Linked DNA regions of Homo sapiens: region 2 is linked to region 1. The links come from fine-mapping of genetic effects on gene expression. Tissue or cell type: spinal cord. Region 1 holds a variant in brackets; the other region holds the start of a gene. All regions are shown on one strand. Distances are from middle to middle.

Region 1 (2,685 bases):
AATAATTATGTGATCTGTACCTTTCTTTCATTTTTCTGTCTCACTGGCAAACATGTGCAACAAGGAAAACTCATGCAAAAGAGATATCTGCAGATCATCGCAATTACTATTGTCTGCCATGTGGAGAGATGGCGTGAAGAGATGTTCTTTGCTTGTGCTTTCCCAGATGGTAGAGAAAGTACCAGTAGATTTAAATGTGAAATTAGCAATTCATTCACTCTTCAGCAACTCTTCGGCCTTTTCTGTTCAACTCATGGGTCTGAAAAGGGCACCATACAACAAATGCTTTTAAAAGACAATATACGGGGCCGGGTGCCATGGCTCATGCCTATAGTCCCAGCACTTTGGGAGGCCGAGGTGGGCGGATCACGAGGTAAAGAGATTGAGACCATCCTGGCCAACATGGTGAAACCCCGTCTCTACTAAAAATACAAAAGTTAGCTGGGCGTGGTGGCACGCGCCTGTAGTCTCGGCTACTTGGGAGGCCGAGGCAGGAGAATCTCTTGAACCTGGGAGGCGGAGGTTGCAGTGAGCCGAGATTGCGCCATTGCACTCCAGCCTGGTGACAGAGCAAGACTCCGTCTCAAAAAAAAAAAAAAAAAAAGACTATGTACTGTATTTTAGAGTGATAGTTCATGTCCAGTGAAGTAATTCTATTGAATTTCAAGTAAAGGAGCGTTATAACTAGATAATAATAACAAATAAAACTGTGATTTAGTCTAGGTTTTCAGCTTGTATGAAAGAAGAAATATACAAATTCAGAGTTGATTTTTTAATATCAAAATGCATATTTGAAAACAAAATAAATATTTAAAAATTTAAAAAATGCCTATTTGATTTTTATAAATTGGTTTTTAAAAGTCATCCAGTGAAAGAGCCAACGTATTTGCATTCTGCCTATAGAAGTTTATGAAGTAACGACGTCAGTCTTTATTTTATTAGTGACTACAGGAACAGCTATTTCTGCAACAGCTGGTTGTTCCTTGATCATTTTTCTCTCGATTTCACAGGTTATGTTGATAGTGTCTGTGCAATCAGTAAGAAGTATATTTCAGGCGATTTCATTGAATAGCGTTTCCTAATTGAGGTTTATACCCCAGCTGGCAATTTCCTAGGTCT[A/G]TCTGCTGAAACTTTGGTCTTTTCATGAAGCTATGAGCTAGCTGGGTAGAGTTCAGCTCCACTGACACATGGAGAAAATGTGTGGCCACTTGGACGCTTTTCAAAATAAAGCTATTTTAAAATTTTTACCCCTTGGTTTAGAGCTTTGGTGTATATTTATCAGGGACAAAATGACAAGTTGAAGCATTTTTTAAAGTTTAAAATGCATATTTGAAAGCACTGATTAAATAAAATATTTATAGAGTTTCCACTTAAAGGTGGAGACTGACTTAACCTTTCAATTATTATTTTCCTATAACTGAATTGTATAACCTATGCAAATGATTGTAATCTTTTTTCTTCCTTCTTGTAGCTTGTAGAAACTTCATTAAAAGGAGAAATTGCCTTTGATCCCAGAAGCGCCTATTATTTGTGGTTTGTGATGGATTTTTGTGACGGAGGAGATATGAATGAGTATCTGTTGTCCAGGAAACCCAATCGTAAAACTAACACCAGCTTCATGCTTCAGCTGAGCAGTGCCCTGGCTTTCTTGCATAAAAACCAGATCATCCACCGAGATCTTAAGCCTGATAACATCCTGATTTCTCAAACCAGGTTGGATACCAGTGACTTGGAACCTACCCTCAAAGTGGCTGATTTTGGTCTAAGTAAAGTTTGTTCAGCCTCTGGGCAGAACCCAGAAGAACCTGTCAGTGTAAACAAGTGTTTCCTTTCCACAGCATGTGGAACAGATTTTTACATGGCTCCTGAAGTTTGGGAAGGACATTACACAGCAAAAGCTGACATCTTTGCTCTGGGGATTATCATCTGGGCAATGCTGGAAAGGATCACATTCATAGACACAGAGACAAAGAAGGAACTCTTGGGGAGTTATGTAAAACAAGGAACTGAGATTGTGCCTGTTGGGGAGGCACTTCTGGAAAATCCCAAAATGGAACTTCTCATTCCTGTGAAGAAAAAATCTATGAATGGGCGAATGAAACAACTGATTAAGGAAATGCTGGCTGCAAACCCTCAGGATCGTCCAGATGCTTTTGAACTAGAACTCAGATTAGTACAAATTGCATTTAAAGATAGCAGCTGGGAAACGTGACACATATTATTTGCAAATACCATGGATGATATGCTGCTTCTGTTTAACAGTGATGCAACATTATGTGGCTGAAAAAGAATATAAAAAGCTAGACTCTACCCTCTAAGGGTTTAGATTTTTTGTGGGATTTTTTTTTTCCTCATTTTTCTTAAATCCAAGTTGGCCGTTTTATTAGTATGTTTCAAATGTGTATTACCAATGTGGGTGTAAATTTTTAAAAAATGATTATTGATAGAAGTTTGGCAGGAAAATTCTTTAAGAGCTAACAAGAGAAGAGAGTCCAGTTTTCTGGAAATATGTCTTTAAGTATTTTAGACATTCCTCGTCAGTATTAGGAATTTCCATGGGAAAAGAGGTTTGCATGCTGGTAATGCAACCTTTGAAACTTTGTAAAGGAAACATATATGTATATATTTATGTATATGTAAGTATGTGAATGTGCGCATTTTGCATTCCATATGAAAAAAATGCCA
Region 2 (2,685 bases), 56 kb after region 1:
TCTCAACCTCTCGAGTAGCTGGGACTACAGTCGTGTGCCAGCACTCCCCAGCTCCAAATTTTTTTTTTGTTTTTTGTGGGTTTTTTTTTTGAGACGGAGTCTTGCTTTGTTGCCAGGCTGGAGTGCAGAGGCGTGATCTCAGCTCACTGCAACCTCCGCCTCCCAGGTTCAAGCGATTCTCCTGCCTCAGCCTCCTGAGTAGCTGTGACTACAGGCGTGCACCACCACACCCAGCTAATTTTTGTATTTTTAGTAGAGACGGGGTTTCACCATGTTGGGCAGGCTGGTTTCCATCTCTTAACCTCATGATCCACCCGCCTTGGCCTTCCAAAGTGCTGGAATTACAGGCGTGAACCACCATGCCCGGCCAAATTTGTTTTTAAATATAGTTTTGATAATTGTTCTCATTGTAATCCTAAGCATTTTGTTTTGTGCATTTATTTATTTATTTATAATACAGAGTTTTGCTCTGTTGCCCAGGCTGGAGTGCAGTGGCACGATCTTGGCTCACTGGAACCTCCCCCTCCTGGGTTCAAGGGATTCTCCTGCCTCAGCCTCCTGAGTAGCTGGGATTACAAGCACCCACTACGCCCAGCTAATTTTTTGTATTTTTAGTAGAGATGGTGTTTCACCATATTGGCCAGGCTGGTCTTGAACTCCTGATCTCAAGTGATCCGCCCACCTCGGCCTCCCAAAGTGCTGGGATTACAGGCGTGAGCCACCGCGCCCGGCCTGTTTTATGCCTTTATAAGCAGCTATTCTGAGAAAGCATTCACAGGCCTCACCAGATGCCAGAGTCCATACTGCAAAATCCAAGGGAGGCTAAACACCCCAGTTCTAAATGTTTTCAAGCCATTCAGATACTGTGCACAGCTGCCCTTTGAAGTACGGTCTATTATATCTCTTTTACAGACCCAGAAACTGAGGCGCAGAAGTTAGGGTCAGCCCCAGGTCACACAGCTAACAAGAGCTGGCCTAGGCACCCAGGGACCTGGCCCCCTAGCCTCTGTGCTTTGCTACTGATTTCAGCGCTCCTCTTGTGGCTTTTTCTTGAGGAGCCCAAGGGTCAGGGTCCCACCCCGCGATATGAGGCCAGTGGCACTGCCCCCTAGCAGGCGCGAGATGCCAGAGCCCTAGGATGTCTGAAGGGCCGGGCAGGAGGCGGACGGGCGTGGGCCAATGGCTGTCGCAGTGCCTCATCTTGCCGTCTGTGTGAGCCCAGGTATGCAGTAGGCTCCGCCCAGGACCCAGCCCGGCCCCTCCTTAGGCCTGGGCTCTGGGAGCGGAAATTCCGGCGACAGCAGGGCAAAACAGGAGCTGATTCGAGCTGGCAGAGCTGGGCCATGGAACCGGTAGAGACCTGGACCCCCGGAAAGGTGGCAACTTGGCTGAGAGGTGGGTGGGGCTGGGGTAGAGTTGGGCTTGAAGGGGACTAGGTGTGGTGTCCCACCGGGAAGCGGGAGGAGAGGAAAAGGAAAAAAAATCTGCGGACTGGGTGCGCTGGTTCACACCTGTAATCCCAGCACTTTGGGAAGCCAAGGTGGGTGGGTCACCTGAGGTCGGGAGTTCAAGACCAGCATGGTGAAACCCCGTCTCTACTAAAAATACAAAAATTATCTGGGGGTGGTGGCAGGTGCCTGTAATCCCAGCTACTTGGGAGGCTGAGGCAGGAGAATCGCTTGAACCCAGGAGGCAGAGGTTACAGTGAGCCGAGATTGCACCGCTGCACTCCAGTCTGGACGACAGAGCGAGATTCAGCTCAAAAGAAAAAAAAAAATAATAAACTGCGGGCTCTATCAGTCGGTCAGTCAGTCAACAAATATTTACAGAGCACCTAACATGTTCCAGGAACCGTGCTGGGCAGAGAGACAGATGAGATGACCCTGGGGGGCCCAAGGACCCAGAAGGGGGCCCCTCATCATGGCAGTAGCCCAAGAGGCCTCTAGGGTGATAATGGGGAGGCGGTGTCATGAAAACAGGAGGGAGGCCTGACAGGCCCACACCCACTGTATCTCCTTCATCTTCCCTGGCCCCAGGGCCAGTGGGCTGTTGTTAAATCCGTTTCTTAGAGTCAGAAACTGACACACAGAGCCAGGAAATGATTTGCTCAGTCTCTGGTGTCATTTTCCCCGCTCCACACCCTGAGCTCCTAGTGACAGAAGCAGAAGCCCTAGGCCAGACTGAAGAGGTTGACACAGCCCCACCCTGGGGCTCCTATCCAAGGGGCAAGGTGCTGTCCAGGCTCAGCGAGCCCACACAGATGGGAAGCAACACACCCCACAGGCAGACTCAGAGAAGGAAGGGCCTCCTGACACACAGTGCGACCAGGAGCAGGCAGTCAGGACACCCCTCCCAGAGTGGGGAGCTGGAGCGCACTAGAGACAGGCTCAGGAGGACCAGCCCGGGTAAGGGCAGGAATTCAGGGCTGGGTTCAGACTCCCAGGCTGGATTCCAGGCCCACCCCCACCGCTTGCCAGCTCTGTGACCATAGGTCTTAGTTTTTCTGTCCATCAAATGGGAAAGGCAACTCTGACCTTATGAAGTCGACAAAGTGAGACAATCATGACATAGTTCATTTGTAGCTCAATGCCTGGGTCTATTGGGAGGGCACCAGCCCAATACAGTCACCGTGCAGGAAGGAGGTGGCTCAGGGGCCCATAGCCAGGGAGTGATAGGTTCATGAAC

The links. PIP is the estimated chance that this variant, and not a neighbour inherited with it, causes the effect.
Region 2: it holds the start of CNKSR1, and the variant in region 1 is fine-mapped to the expression of CNKSR1 in spinal cord (GTEx, PIP 0.94).

The regions. Positions count from the first base shown.
Region 1 is chr1:26,120,366-26,123,050 of GRCh38, forward strand. It overlaps PDIK1L (PDLIM1 interacting kinase 1 like), which reads left to right. Exons shown (of 3, transcript NM_152835.5): 3 at 1,472-2,685. The coding sequence ends at 2,212. Among named protein-coding and RNA genes, the nearest start is that of PDIK1L, 9.9 kb to the left of the region's middle. The variant A/G (reference allele first, on the strand shown) is at 1,120.
Region 2 is chr1:26,176,205-26,178,889 of GRCh38, forward strand. CNKSR1 (connector enhancer of kinase suppressor of Ras 1) reads left to right here and starts at 1,287. Exons shown (of 21, transcript NM_006314.3): 1 at 1,287-1,395. The coding sequence starts at 1,344.